2 separate regions of the Homo sapiens genome follow, and region 1 is linked to region 2. Evidence: fine-mapped expression QTL. Tissue or cell type: lung. Region 2 holds a variant in brackets; the other region holds the start of a gene. All regions are shown on one strand. Distances are from middle to middle.

What was found. PIP is the estimated chance that this variant, and not a neighbour inherited with it, causes the effect.
Region 1: ATP13A1 starts here. The variant in region 2 is fine-mapped to the expression of ATP13A1 in lung (GTEx, PIP 0.98).

The regions. Positions count from the first base shown.
Region 1 is chr19:19,659,937-19,668,031 of GRCh38, forward strand. It overlaps ATP13A1 (ATPase 13A1), which reads right to left and starts at 3,740. Exons shown (of 26, transcript NM_020410.3): 1 at 3,335-3,740; 2 at 1-51. The coding sequence starts at 3,730. RefSeq lists enhancers at 1,486-2,133, 1,727-2,206, 2,907-2,956, 3,088-4,070, 3,342-3,443 and 1 more and silencers at 3,477-3,736, 4,177-4,226.
Region 2 is chr19:19,279,877-19,287,976 of GRCh38, forward strand. SUGP1 (SURP and G-patch domain containing 1) reads right to left here. Exons shown (of 14, transcript NM_172231.4): 9 at 309-415. Among named protein-coding and RNA genes, the nearest start is that of TM6SF2, 11 kb to the left of the region's middle. The variant A/G (reference allele first, on the strand shown) is at 3,683.

The sequences.
Region 1 (8,095 bases), 380 kb after region 2:
GTTGGGGGTTGGCACCACCTTCACAAAGGTCGCTTTGCTGGGGTCGTACTCCTGACAGAGACAAAGAAAGCATTGTGGCTTAGCTCTTCTCAACCTACAGTTCCAAGACCCCCCCGGGAGGTTTTGGGTGCAGCAGCTCTATGGGTATATTCTGAAATGCCACTGGGCTCTGGTGCTGCCTCTGTCACTCCCTCGTCTGTCATCAGGACAAACGAGACCATCTTGCTGTGCCTCTGGTGCCACACTTAAAGCTGGGAGCACAAGGCTGGGCACGGTGACTCACACCCATAATCCCAGCACTTTGGGAGGCCAAGGTGGGCGGATCACTTGAGATCAGGAGTTTGAGATCAGCCTCGCCAATGTGGCGAAACCCTGTCTCAACTAAAAATACACAAATGAGCCGGACACGGTGGTGCACACCTGTAATACCAGCTACTTAGGAGGCTGAGGCAGGAGAATCCCTTGAACTGGGAGGCGGAGGTTGCAGTGAACTGAGATTGCAACACTGCACTCCAGCCTGGGTGGCAGAGTGAGATCCTATCTCAATTAAAAAAAAAAAAACAAAAAACCAGCCAGGCACAGTGGCTCGCACCTGTAATCCCAGCACTTTGGGAGGCCGAGGTGGGCAGATCACGACGTCAGGAGATTGAGACCATCCTGGCTAACACGGTGAAACCCCATCTCTACTAAAAACACAAAAAATTAGCTGGGCGTGGTGGCAGGCATCTGTAGTCCCAGCTACTTGGGAGGCTGAGGCAGGAGAATGGCGTGCACCCAGGAGGCAGAGCTTGCAGTGAGCCGAGATTGCACCACTGCACTCCAGCCTGGGCGACAGAGCAGGACTCTGTCTCAAAATAAAAAGGCTGGGTGCAGTGGCTCACACCTGTAATCCCAGCACTTTGGGAGGCTGAGGCAGGGGGGATCACGAGGTCAGGAGTTTGAGACCAGCCTGGCCAATATGGTGAAACCCCGTCTCTACTAAAAATATAAAAATTAGCTGGGCATAGTGGCAGGCACCTGTAGTCTCAGCTACTCGGGAGGCTGAGGCAGAACAATCACTTGAACCTGGGAGGCGGAGGTTGCAGTGAGCCGAGATTGTGCCACTGCACTCCAGCCTGGGCAACAGAGCCAGACTCCATCTCAAAAACAAACAAACAAACAAACAAAAAAACCCCAAAAAACAAAACAAAAACAAAAACAACAACAAAAAAAGCTGGGAAGCTGGGTGCACAGACAGCACCTAATGCCCAGGGCTCTGCTCTGCTGAAGGTGACATGAACTCAAATAGGAAGAACGCTGCCAGGCACCCACCCAGTACGTCCTCAATTCACGTGAGCCAAGCCCCCGCCCCATCACAGGCCCCCGGCCTCCTGCTCAGCTCTGCCTCTTCCACCAACCCTGCTCACTACACTCCACAGCTCCACACGCACATGGGGCTCGATCGTGCCTCAGCAAAGGGCCTTGGCATGTGCTGTTTTCTCTGCCCGGAATACACAGTCACACAGCTCCCTTGCTGCCTCAGGCTTTTGCTGAAACATCACCTTCTCAGGAGCCCCTCCCTGGCTGCCCCATCTAAAGTTCCCGGCAATGTCCCATCCTGTCCTGATGTTAGATGTCATCTCTGTTTGGCATCAACTGCTGACTATGAGTTCTCCCTCCCAGTAACACCACAAAGGCAGGGGGATTTGCCTGTTTTGTTCACTGCTGTTTCCCCAGCACCTAAGACACAGAAATGTTGAATGGAACTCGTTCAGTGCTCCCTGGACCCCGTGAACCGCCATCCATTCCTCTGCTGCTCTGCTAGACCGAGCTGCATGGAGACGAGCTGCATGGAGATGGGGGGAGCACAATGATGACCCGCAGAAACAAAGCGCCACCGCACGGGTGGTTCATGGGCCTCCAAAGCAGGCAGCAAATAACAACAATCACATAACTACAAACGTGACGTCACGGAAGAAAGGTACAAGAGGCTATACGCTGTGATGGCCCCAGGGCGGGCACTCTGCAGATATCATCTCCGCTTCTCAAGATGGCACCCAGTAGTTGTTAGTTACGGTTCTCAGTTTACAGAAGGGGGAAACTGAAACTCAGAGAGCAGAAGCGGCCCTTTCTGAGATCTGAATCAAACCCAGATCCACCTCTCCTGGCTGATGGCTGTTCAGCTCCTCCCACTTCTCCATCCCTGGAGAGGAAGTTAAGAGCTAAGCTGCTTAGCTGCAGGTCAAAAGGCAGCTGAAGTTTGAGCGGTGCCACAGTCCCCTTAACCCCTCCTTTATTTTGTCCCTCATTGGTGTCTTTCATTGTACTACCTCAAAGCTACCACGTTGAGCTCCTCCCCTGGGATAGATAAGTCTTTTTGAAGGACAGAACAGGTTGTCTCTCAGGAGAGGAGAATGAGGATTCTACCCACATTCAGAGCCAGCCAGGGTGGGGGGCTTCTGTCTTTCTGTAGCCCTTGATGCTGTTCCCTTTTCCTCTTCTTGAGGCAAACACACTCCTGGAATCAGAGGGGAAGCTTCCTGATATACCTCAGTGTCCATGGCTCCAAACCTGCTGGTGTCACCTGAGGCAGGCCCAGAGAGAGACGACACAGTCACTGCTTCAGGCCCAGGGAAGCTCACAGTCACCAACTCCTCCGACGACACTTGGTCACTCAGAACTCTAAACTGTGGGTCAGGAGCGCGACCTTGCTTGCTGTTGTATCCCCGACAGAACTCAGTATCACCACCCTCATTTTGCGGAAAGACATCATGTAAATGACTCGCTCATAAACACCTCTGCCTCTCTTCAACACTGTAATTAACTGCATTTCATGCTCCTTTCCATCACAGTATGGAAGACCACTAAGCACTGGACAGCAAGACTTGGTTCAGTCTAAGAACCAACTAAGCTTCATAGATGGGGGAAACCTATCCCAGTGATCTCGCCTTACACTTTGAAAACCAAGGTAGGAGACAGATGAGATGGAAGGTAGGGCCGTTTCCAGAACAAGAGTAGTCGCTAATATGGGAACTAGTATAAACAACTCCTACCTGACCTGGGCGACGTATGCTGGGCCCTGCGCTAAGCCTTTTACAAGTATTACATCACTGAATCTAAATGACCATAACAGGGAGGACTTCAGAAAAAGGAAATAACCCGCACCAGGCATGCACAGCAAGTCAGCAGTGGGGTCATGATTAAGCCTGCGCCAAAGTGTAGAGGGTGCCCCTGGGAATCCAGGCCAGGCAGATGAGTGGCCCAGGTCGCGATGGTGACCGACAGGAAGGCCGCAGCTGGGACCCACGGCGAGGCTCGACCGTGCTGGGGGTCGGGCTCGCGTGTACACACTTACCGGGGTGCAGGTGAGCGCGCAATGCGCGTGCACAGACCAATGCCCCGAGAGGACAGTGAGCGCGTGCGCGAGGCAGATGGTGGCAAGCACGAGCAGCGCAGCTTCGGGGATCTGCACCCAACTGCTGCCCCAGCCCCAGCAGCCAGCGGCTGCGGCACCCAACCAGGCCGGGTAAAGCAGCCCGGCGAATGGCAGCACCGTGAGGCGCCGCAACAGCGCCAACCGCCGGTACGGCCACACGGCAGCCACCAGCTCGTCACCGTTCGCTATGAGCGCCGGCCCGGCGGCAAGGAGCGCGCGCGGCTGCGGCCCGGGCTTGGGCTGCCCGTCAGGCCGGACCCCGCAAGGCCGGGCCCCGCAGGGCACCGCGTTGCCCACCGCCGCCGCTGCCGCCATCTTTCCTAGCGCCGCGCTCACTTCCGGGCAGAGGAACGCCTCACTTCCGAAGTTTTACTTCCGGTAAGCCCTGAGCGCCGCCATGGCAGCCTGGACTAGGAAGAGCCAGGGCAACAGAACAGGCTGGCCCCGGCAGGGACTACTTCGGGTGCCGCCATGACAGGCTGTGGCCGGAAGAAGAGGCTGGGCGTCGCCATGACAGAGAGGGACTGGAAGACCTAACGGTGCCTGCCTCCGCTGCCACGCCGGACTGAGACCGGAAAAGACAAGGCCGGCAAGGCGGGCTTGGGCGCCACCATGACAACCTGAACCAAAAAAAGCGAGCCCTCCTCCTTGACTACACCAGCACCACCTGTCACCAGGGGCGAAGCCTGGACCCTGCGGAGGCGGGGTCGGGAGCTTCGGAGTTCAGGAGGCGGGGCCCGGTGCGGGGGGCGGGGCTTGTGAGGGGCGGGGTCGGGGACCGCCCCGGAACACAACCACACCGGACAAGAGCCTTAATGTGATAGATAAGAATTACAAATACTAGCCGGGCGCGGTGGCTCACGCCTGTAATCCCAACACTTTGGGAGGCGAGGCGGGTGGATCACCTGAGATCAGGAGTTCAAGACCCAACATGGTGAAACCACGTCTCTACTAAAAATACAAAAATTAGCCGGGCGTGGTGGCACATGCCTGTAATCCCAGCTACTCGGGAGGATGAGGCAGGAGAATTGCTTGAGCCCGGGAGACGGAGGTTGCAGTGAGCCAAGATTGCTCCACTGCACTTCAGCCTGGCCAACAGAGCAAGACTGTCTCAAAAAAAAAAAAAAGAAAAATGAATTACAAAAACCACTTTAGGCCGGGCGCGGTGGCTCACGCCTGTAATCCCAGCACTTTGGGAGGCCGAGGTCAGGAGATCGAGACCATCCTGGCTAACGCGGTGAAACCCCGTCTCCACTAAAAATACAAAAAAAAAAAAAAAATTCTCCGGGCGTGGTGGCGGGCGCCTGTAGTCCCAGCTACTCCGGAGCCTGAGGCAGAATGGCGCGAACTGGAGAGGCAGAGCTTGCAGTGAGCGGAGATTGTGCCACTGCCCTCCAGCCTGGGCGACAGAGCGAGACTCTGTCTCCAAAAAAAAAAAAAAAAAAAAAAAGAAATTACCACTTTAACATAAAAAATGAAAAACTGGTGTTTACTTGAAATTATATACTTCTAGGCCGGGCGCGGTGGCTCACCCCTGTAATTCCAGCACTTTGGGAGGCCGAGGCGGGCGGATCACGAGTTCAGGAGATCGAGACCGTCCTGGCTAACACAGTGAAACCCCGTCTCTACTAAAAATACAAAAAATTAGCCGGGCGTGGTTGCAGGCGCCTGTAGTCCCAGCTACTCGGGAGGCTGAGGCAGGAGAATGGCCTGAACCTGGGAGGCGGAGCTTGCAGTGAGCCGAGATCGCGCCACTGCACTCCAGCCTGGGCGACAGAGCGAGACTCTGTCTGAAAAAAAAAAAAAAAAGAAATTATATAGTTCTATATTATTAACTGTACTGTTGCATAAATGCTATTTGAACAAAACCACAATAGGACTACTTAACAGTACCAATTAGTAGGATTAAACAGTATGTGTGACAAACAGTAACTATTTTATGTTTCTTTTTGTCCTCTGATACAGCAAATTTATTTAAACTTAAAATTTATTGGATATTTAAATTTTGTAGCTTATATTGTTGCATATTCTTTTTTTAATTTTTCGAGATGAAGTCTCACTCTGTCGCCCAGGCTGGAGTGCAGTGGCGCGATGTCCGCTCACTGCAAACTCCACTTTCCGAGTTCAATCGATTCTCCCATTTCAGCCTCCCAAGTAACTGGGATTACAGGCGCATGCCACCGCTCCGGCTAATTTTTGTACTTTTTTTTTTAGACGGAGTCTCACTCTGTTGCCCAGGCTGGAGTGCGGTGGTGCGATCTCAGCTCACTGCAACCTACGCCTCCTGGGTTCCAGCGGTTCTCCTGCCTCAGCCTCCCGGGTAGCTGGGACTACAGGCGCGTGCCACCATGCCTGGCTAATTTTTTGTATTTTCAGTAGAGATGGGGTTTCACTATGTTGGCCAGGTTGGTCTCGAACTCCTGACCTTGTGATCCGCCCACTTTGGTCTCCCAAAGTGCTAGGATTACAGGTGTGAGCCAGCGCTCCCAGTCTAATGTTTTGTGTTTTTAGTAGAGACGGGTTTCGCCATGTTGGCCAGTCTGGTCTCAAACTCATGGCCTCTAATGATCTGGCCGCCTCAGTCTCCCAAAGTGCTAGGATTACAGGTGTGAGCCACGGTGCCCAGTCCTAGTCTTGTTTTGTTTTCTTGGGACGGAGTCTCACTCTTGCCCAAGCTGGAGTGCAGTGTTGCAATCTAGGCTCACTGCAACCTCTGCCTCTTGGGTTCAAATGATTCTCCTGCCTCAGCCTCCTTAGTAGCTGGAATTACAGGCATGAACCACCATGCCTGCTAATTTTTGTATTTTTAGGAGAGACAGGGTTTCACCATGTTGGCCAGGCTGGTCTGGAACTCCTGTCCTGGCCTCAAGAGATCTGCCTGCCTCGACTTCCCAAAGTGCTACAGGTGTGACCCGCTGCGGCCACCCACTGCATATTCTGGTTTTTTTTTTTTTTTTTTTTTTTGAGACGGAGTCTCACTCTGTTGTCAGGCTGGAGGCTGGAGTGCAGTGGCGTGATCTCAGCTCACTGCAACCTCTGCCCTCGGAGTTCAAGCGATTCTCCTGCCTCAGCCTCCCGAGTAGCTGGGATTACAGGCGCCTGCCACTGCACCCAGCTAATTTTTTGTATTTTTAGTAGAGACGGGGTTTCACCTTCTTGGCCAGGCTGAGTCTTGAACTCCTGACCTCGTAATCCACCCGCCTCGGACTCCCAAAGTGCTGGGATTACAGGCGTGAGCCACCGGGCCCGGCTCTGGTTTTTTTTTTTTTTTTTTTTTTTTTTTTTTTTTTTTTTTTTTTGAGATGGAGTCATGCTCTGTCGCCCAGGCGCAATGCTGTGATCTCGGCTCACTGCAACCTCCTCCTCCTGGGTTCAAGCAGTTCTCCTGCCTCAGCCTTCTTAGTAGCTAGGATTACAGGCATGCGCCACCACACCTGGCTAATTTTTGTAATTTTAGTAGAGACGGTGTTTCACCATGTTGGGCAGGCTGGTCTCCTACTCCTGACCTCATGATCCGCCTGCCTGGGCCTCCCAGAGTGCTGGGATTACAGGCTGAGCCACCGTGCCCGGCTGCATATTATTAAGATACATGACTTCGTAAAAGGAGAAAGGAAATGTAATAGGACTTAATAATCACATAGTATCAAATAAGATAATCTTCAGTAAAAATAGGAATGACATGTTTCTGTCCCATGATACAGTTCGATATACTTACTTTTTCAGTTTTTTCTCCAATATTAATTCTTTCCCATACAAGGTCCAAGCTTCTGCTCTTGGAGTCTGGGACTGGACCCCTTTCTGGTAGCAATACCTTTATAGAATGTTTACTCCAGGCCGGGCACGGTGGCTCATGCCTGTAATCCCAGCACTTTGGGAGGCCAAGGCGGGCAGATCACGAGTTCAGGAGATCGAGACCATCCTGGCTAACACGGTGAAACCCCGTCTCTACTAAAAATACAAAAAAAAAAAAAAAAAAAAAAAATTGGCCGGGCATGGTGGCACATGCCTGTAGTTCCAGCTACTCGGACTCGGGAGGCTGAGGCAAGAGAATCTCTTGAACCTGGGAGGCAGAGGTTGCAATGAGCTGAGATCGTGCCACTGCACTCCAGCCTGGGCGACAGAGCCAGACTCCGTCTCAAAAAAAAAGAAAAAAAAAGTGGTTTACTCCAGTTTTTCCCTGCATTTAATAATTTTGTTCCCTTTAAGGCATGTTTTTATTTTCTTGGCTGAAAAGGAGTAGCCTGAGAAGAAGTAACGTGTAGGAAGCCTTGGCCATGGGACCAATAGCCTCATAAATTCCTGATCTCTGGAGGACATCAGGGCCTCCTACCTGTTCCATTGTGACCTGGGAGTCTCTCCAGCTCCAAGGTGGAGGGATGGCTTCACTGAACACGGAGTCTGGAATTCCGTGCACACTCATGTGACCGGTGTTCCGGAAAAAGAAGCAGGAGGCGGCTGGGCGCGGTGGCTCACGCCTGTAATCCCAGCACTTTGAGAGGCCGAGGCCGGCGGATCACGAGATCAGGAGTTCGAGACCAGCCTGGCCAACATGGTGAAACCCCATTTCTACTAAAAATACAAAAATTAGCCGGGAGTGGTGGTGGGCGCCTGTAATCGCAGCTACCCGGGAGGCTGAGGCAGGAGAATCGCTTGAAACCGGAAAGCGGAGGTTGCAGTTAG
Region 2 (8,100 bases):
AGCCCTGGAGCGCGGCGAGAAGCAGCCACAAAGCTCAGGCCAGGATCACAGACCACCGGGGCCGCCCCAAGGGCCAGTGGTCTCCCAGGCAGGCTGAGAGGCCACTCAGGTGCAGTGGGGGGTGGCATGCCACCTACTGGGGCAGGGGGACCTGCCTGCCTGGAAGCCTCCCCGCTGGCCATGGGTTCCACCTGAACACAGGAGCTTGGCGAAGCACATGAACCCCTGTGACCGCTGCACCCGGGGGTAGAGGACAACACTCTATGGGCGCCGACCATGTCCCCGTCCCCTTGTCCCCGCAGTCTTACCTCCTGCTGCTCCTTCAGCTGCTTCTTCTGGGCGTCTGAAAGCTCTGTGACGCCCACTAGACCCACAGGCTTCCCCTTCTCATAGCCGAGCCCCTTGAGGTCCTGAACTGGAAACCAAAGACACAGGGTAGTCAGAGCCTGACAGGTGCACCCCGATCTCGCTCCTGCGCTGGGGTGTGCTGTGAGTCTCACACCTTCATGACACTCCAGGCACACGGGGACCTCATATCATTACTGTCAGTGCCACGTGGTACGTGACGGCCTCGGGGTCCCGCTGTGTGCTGCCACGTGCACCCCCGCATCTTACGTCCTTGTGACCTCTCCAGCCAGGCTCTACGCACCACCACATTGCAGATGTGGACACCAAGAATCAGAGGTTCCGGGACTCACTCAGGGTCACACAGCTAACGAGTGACAGGGCAGGAATTTGCAGAGCCAGAGACAAGAGAGCTGAGACGGCATGTGGGCAGCATGCATGGGCGCACGCACAAACGGGCTCTCAGAAGGCAGCTCCGTTGCTAACAGACACCAGGTGTAAGCGCGCACAGATTCAGAGTCTGGCGTAAGACTCAGCTGTGCGACTCCCTTAGCTCCTTCAGGGGAGGCAGCCAACCATCCTCAGAGCAGCTGACATTTAATTTGGCATCAGCTGTGGAACTTGGCAGGCTCCAGTAACACTGACACATAGAAAGATGCTGCAACAGCCCCATCCGGGTGGCAGAAACCACCACCCCTCGGGCGGTGCGGTGCTTCCCGGGGGAGAAGGTGAGCAAAGGGGTGCAGCGGGCCCTCTGGGAAGGGAAAAGATTTGGGTCCTTCCAGCTCATCAACACTCGGGCTTTGCCGCTAAGAATGGCCCACATTTGCACTCTTAGTCCTTCCTTGGTTTACAGGGCACTGAGGGATGTGGGGGAGCCCTGTTGGGGAGACGCAGGAGCCGAAGTCTGAGCATCTGGTTGATTGCCTTAGAGCATGCCCACAGTCCCTTTCCCCCAGGCCCACTCCACCACATGAGCGGGCGGGTGAGGGCTGCCATGCTCCCTGAGGACATGGATCAGTGGGACTTGAACCTGGGCCTCAGACTTTGGAGCCTGTTCTGTCCAACTAAGCCACAGGGCGACTTCTTCACCTGCTGGGTGTCTCAGAGCTGGGGTGTGTGCGCATTGAAGCACCCGGATCTAAGCACTAGGGTTCGGCACTTGAGTGACAAACCAATCCTAGGTACCCTCCACCCTGGCTGCAGTTGCTGGCTACAGCCCTGGTAAGCATAAGAATCTTCATTCAGTAGCTTTTCTCCTTGACCTAGAATCTCTGAGGCCCTTGGGGCCAGGGAGGCACCGAGAAAGCAATCATCCCTGAATTGGACGAGCAGGTCCAAGAGGCTGGCCACCCGACCTGGGAAGGCTGTCGCCTTCCCTTTTGGGGTCCTGTCCTCATCTTGCAAACACAGGTGATGGCGCCACACAACAGGGCACGTCGGACTCCTCCATGCACCTGTGTGTTGAGCGCCAGTGAAGGTGGAGTGAGGGGGTGATGTTTCTGCTCCACAGTGCAGGCTGCATAGCTGCATAGTGGGGCACCATATGACATGAGATAGTGGGTGTCAGTCACTGATTATCATCTGCAGAATGCAATGACAAGAGACCACCCCCCAACCCTTGTAGGTTTGGTAAGAAAATGAGAGACCAGGCCATAGGCTGGCCCTCCCCGAAATTGCTGCTAAGAAGGGAGAGGTGAAAAGGTGATTGTGTAAAACTGTGGTAATTATTGTGCTTATCGTTGTCTGTCTCTTGAACTTTCTTTCATTTTTCCCGAGATGGAGTCTTGCTCTGTCGCTCAGGCTGGAGTGCAGTGGTGCGATCTTGGCTCACTGCAACCTCCGCCTCCCAGGATCAAGCAATTCTCCTGCCTCAGCCTCCCAAGTAGCTGGGACTACAGGCACGTGGCACCACATCCAGCTAATTTTTGTATTTTTAGTAGAGACGGAGTTTCACCATATTAGTCAGGCTGGTCTTGAACTCCTGACCTCAGGCGATCTGCCCACCTTGGCCTCCCAAAGTGCTGGGATTACAGGCGTGAGCCACCACACCCAGCCTCCTGAACTTTCTGTGACAAGAAAGAATCCAAGTACTGGCCGGGAGTGGTGGCTCATGCCTGTAATCCCAGCACTTTGGGAGACTGAGGTGGGAGGATAGCTTGAGCCCAGGAGTTTGAGACTAGCCTAGGCAACATAGTAAGACCCCATCTCTATTTATGTTAAAAAAAAAAAAAAAGAGACTCAATTCAGACCCAAAGACACAAATACAGTCAGGAATCACTTCATGGAGGGGACCATTCTGGAAATGCATCATTAGGCGCCGTTACCAATGTGTGAGCATCACAGACTGTACCTCCACAAACCTAGATGCTACCGCCTACTGCACACCTACACTAGATATTACAGTTGACCTTGAACTACATGGGTATGAACTATACAGGTCCACTTAATATGCTGATTTCTTTCAATGAATATATTGAAAAAATTTTTGGAGATTTGCAACAATTCGAAAAAAGTCAGATGAACCACGTAGCCTAGAAATACTGAAAAAAAAATCAAGAAAAAGTTAGGTGTGGCCAGGCACGGCGGCTCACGCCTGTAATCCCAGAACTTTGGGAGGCCAAGGTGGGCGGATCACAAGGTCAGAAGATCGAGACCATCCTGGCTAACACGGTGAAACCCCGTCTCTACTAAAAATACAAAAAATTAGCCAGGCGTGGTGGCAGGCGCCTGTCGTCCCAGCTACTTGGGAGGCTGAAGTAGGAGAATGGTGTGAACCCGGGAGGTGGAGATTGCAGTGAGCCAAGATCGTGCTACTACACTCCAGCCTGGGCGACAGAGTGAGACTCCATCTCAAAAAAAAAAAAAAGTTAGGAGTGTCAATGAATGTATAAGATATATGTAGATGCTAGTCTGTTTTATCACTTACTACCATAAAACATATACACATTGCAGAAAGTTAAACTTTATCAAAACTTATGCACACAGACTGTACATAATGTGTTTTGCAGTCAAGAGAAATGTAAACAAATGTAAAGATGGTAGATGAAATCTTTTTTTTTGGATATGGAGTCTTGCTCTGTCACCCACGCTGGAGTGTAATGGTGCAATCTCGGCTCACTGCAACCTCCGCCTCCACCTCCCGGGTTCAAACAAATTCTCCTGCCTCAGCCTCCCGAGTAGTTGGGACTACAGGCACCTGCCACCATGCCCAGCTAGTTTTTTTTTTTCCTTCTTTTTTTTCTGTTTTTGAGACAGAGTCTCACTCTGTCATCCAGGCTGGAATGCAGTGGTACGACTTCGGCTCACTGCAACCTCCGCCTCCTGGGTTCAAGAG[A/G]TTCTCCTGCCTCAGCCTCCCGAGTAGCCGGGACTACAGGTGGCACGCCACCACACCCAGCTAATTTTTGTATTTTTAGTAGAGACAGGTTTCAGCATACTGGCCAGGCTGGTCTCAAACTCCTGACTTCATTGATCCGCCCGCCTCGGCCTCCCAAAGTGTTGGGATTACAGGCGTGAGCCACCACGTCCGGCCAATTTTGTATTTTTAGTAGAGACAGGGTTTCACCATATTGGCCAGGCTGGTCTCGAACTCCAACCTTGTGATCTGCCCGCCTTGGCCTCCCAAAGTGCTGGGATTACAGGCGTGAGCCACTGCACCTAGCAGATTAAATCTTAACTGCATAACATTAGCTGTAGTGCACACGGTACTACTGTAATCATTTTGTAGCCTCCTGTTGCTATTGTAATGAGCTCAAGTGTTGAGAATATCTGCTTAAAACACCACATGACACTGATCATCTCTGCACAAGCTGTTTGTCCCTTTAGCAAATTGCATATTGCGGTAAAGAGACATCTCTCAGGGTTCTCAAGTATTTTTCAGGTTTAGTGCAATATAGTAAACCTTGAATAACATCATGGGTCCCATAAAAATTGCCACTAGTCAAGTGACTGTAGTCCCAGCTACTCGGGAGGCTGAGGCAGGAGAATCGCTTGAACCCCAGAAATGGAGGTTGCAGTCAGCCTAGAGTGTGCCATTGCACTCCAACCTGGGCAACAGAGCAAGACTCCATCTCAAAAAAAAGTGCCACTAGTGATGGCGGAAGTGCTCCCAAGAAGCAGAGAAAAGTCAAGACATTACAAGAAAAAGCTGAATTGTTTGATATGTGCCATAGATTGAGGTCTGCAACTGCAGTTGCCCACTATTTCAAGATAAATGAATCCAGCATAAGGACCACTGTTAAAAAAAAAAAAAGAAGAAGAGAAATTCACGAAGCTGTTATTGCAGCTATGTCAACAGGTGTGAAAACCTTGCACTTTCTGTGAAGTAACTTTTTATCTCACTTTGAAAATGCAGTTTTTATGTGTATAGGACTGCTATCAGAATGACACACCTACAAGGTTTAATATGATTTAAGAAAAAAGCAAAGTCACTATATGACAATTTAGAACAAAAGCAAGGCGAAGGAGCGAAAGCTGGAGAATATAATGGCAGCAAAGGATGGTTTGACAGGTTTAGAAAGAGGTTTGGCTTTAAGAAGATGTCAGGATAACAGGAACAACAGCTTCTGCCCACCTAGAGGTGGCAGATGAGTTCCCAGATGCCATTAAGAAAATCATTGAGAAGGAAAGATATGCATGTGCTCAAACAGGTTTGTTTTTTTTTTTTTTTTTAGATGGAGTCTCGCTCTTTCGCCCAGGCCGGACTGCAGTGGTGTGATCTCGGCTCACTGCTGCCTCCCGGGTTCATGCCATTCTCCTGCCTCAGCCTCCCGAGTAGCTGGGACTACAGGCGCCCGCCACCGTGCCTGGCTAATTTTTTGTATTTTTAGTAGAGACGGGGTTTCACCGTGTTAGCCAGGATGGTCTCGATCTCCTGACCTCGTGATCCGCCCGCCTCGGCCTCCCAAAGTGCTGGGATTACAGGCGTGAGCTACCGTGCCCAGCCTCAAACAGGTTTATTTTGAAATGGAGTCTTGCTCTGTCACCCAGGATGGAGTGCAGTGGAGCAATCGTGGCTCACTGCAACCTCCGCCTCCTGGGTTCAAGCGATTCTCCTGCCTCAGCCTCCCAAGTATCTGGGATTACAGGAGCCTGCCACTACACACAGCTAATTTTTTGTATTTTTAGTAGAGATGGGGTTTCACCATGTTGGCCAGGCTGGTTTCAAACTCCTGACCTCAAGTGATCCACCCACACTGGCCTCCCAAAGTGCTAGGATCACAGGCATGAGCCACTGTACCCGGCCTCAAATAGGTTTTTTAATGCAGACATAAGTGCCCTATTGGGGTGGGGGAGCCAAAAAAGACATTAGTAAGGAAGAGGAGCAAACACCAGAATTCATTTATTTATTTCTGTTTGCTTGGACACAGGTTCTCACTTTTTTGTCCAGGCTGGAGTGCAATGGCGTGAACATGGCTCACTGCAGCCTCAATCTCCCAGGCTCAAGTGAACCTCTCACCTCAGCCTTCCAAGTAGCTGGGACTACAAGTGAACACCACCACACCCGGCTAATTTTTGTGGTTTTTTGTAGAGACAGGGTTTTCTCATGTTGCCCAGGCTGGTCTCAATTCAGGCCTCAAGCGATCCGCCCACCTCGGCCTCCCAAAGCACTGGGATTACAGGCATGAGCTACCGTACCCGGCCAAGCACCAGAACTTAAGGCAGGATAACGCTACTGTTTTGTGCAAATGCAGTTGGGTTTATGATCGGGGCTGCCCTTATCTATGAAGCTGCTAACCCCTGAGTCTTAAAGGGAAAAGATAAACACCAGCTGCCCGTCTTCTGGTTATACAACAAGAAGGCCAGGGCAGGACAGCCATGGTGGCTCACGCCTGTAATCCTAACACTTTGAGAGGCCAAGGCAGGAGGTAAAAATGCCTGGACAACAAAAATTCTTTTTCTAGATTGGTTTGCTCCTGAAATCAGGAAGTACCTTGCTAGTGACTGCTTGTTAAAGTTCTTTTGATATTGGACAATGCCCCTGGCCACCCAGAACTTCATGAGTTTAACACTGAAGGCATCAAAGTGGTCTACTGCATCCAAACAAGGTCTCTACTTCAGCCTCTAGATTGGGGGGTCGTAAAAACCCTCAAGGCTCATAACACACGTACTCTATGGAGAGGATTATCAAAGCTACGGAAGAGAACCTCAGCAGAGCGAACATTATGAAAGTCTGGAAGGGTTACACTACAGGAAAGGCCATCAAGCCTGAAACAATAAATTCCTGCTAGAGAAAACTGTCTTCAGATGTGCATGACTTCATGGGATTTATAACAGAGTCCATGAAGGAAATCGTGAAAGAGATTGTAGAGACAGCAAAAACGGGTAGAGGGTAAGGGATTTCAAAAGATAGATCTTGGAGAAATTTAAGAACTAAAAAGCTGGACATGGGTGGCTCATGTCTGTGGTCCCAACTGCTTGGGAGGCTGAGGCGGGGAGATCACTTGAGACCAGGAGTTTGAGTCCAGCCCGGGCAACATAACAAATCTCTTGTCTCTATAAAAAAATAAAAATTAAATAAAAATTTAAAAAAATAGGTCTGGCCAGGCGCAGCGGGTCATGCCTACAATCCCAGCACTTCGGAAGCCCGAGGCAGGTGGATCACCTGAGGTCAAGAGTTCGAGAGCAGCCTGGCTAACATGGCGAAACCACATGTCTACTAAAAATACAAAACTAGCTGGCCGTGGTGGCACATGCCTGGGTGACAGTGCGAGACTCTGTCTCCAAAAAAAAAAGCAAAACAACAACAACAACAACAACAACAACAAAATAGGCCGGGCAAAGTGGCTCACGCCTGTAATCCCAGTACTTTGGAAGGCTGAGGCAGATGGATCATTTGAGGTCAGGAGTAAGAGACCAGCCTGAGCAACATGGTGAAACCCTGTCTCTACCAAATACAAAAATTAGCTAGGCATGGGCACACACTTGTAATCCAAGCTGCTCGGAAGACTGAGACGGGAGGATCCCTTGACCCCAGAGCGCAGAGGCTGCAGTGAGCCGAGATCGTGCCAATTCACTCCAGCCTGGGTGACAGAGTGATACCGTGTCTCAAAACATAGGTGAGGCGAGGTGGCTCACACCTGTAATCCCAGCATATTGGGAAGCTGAGGTGGGCGGATCACTTGAAGTCAGGAGTTTGAGATCAGCGTGGGCAACATGGTGAAACCCTATCTCTACAAAAAATACAAAAAATTAGCCGGGCATGGTGGTGCATGCCTGTAATCCCAGCTACTCGGGAGGCTGAGGCATGAGAATCGTTTGAACCAGAGGGGCAGAGGCTGCAGTGAGCTGAGATTGTGCCGCTGGACTCTAGCCTGGGCAACACACAAACACTCCAAATCGAAAAATAATTAATTAATTAAAAATAGAAGAGCTAACAGATACCACACTGGAGAAATTAACAGAAGACAGCTGGATGGAAAGGAGTGCTTCCAAATGAGTGCCAGATGATGAGGAAGAAGCCGGAGAAGCGGCAGCAGCACCAGAAAAGAAAATGACAATCTGGTAGGAGGATTCTCATTATTCGAGACTGTTTCTGACTTCTTTTATGACATGGACCCGAGACATGGGCACTGGAACTAAGTGTAAATGGTAGAAGAAGGAATAATACTGTATATAAACATTTTTAGGGAAATGAAAAAGAAGTCAGGCAGAAATTGTGAGATATTCCCATAAAGTTACAGAGTGCCTGTCTCTCCTTCCACCTCTTCGGCAGCAAGACCAACCCCTACTCTTCTTCCTCCTTAGCTGTTCAAC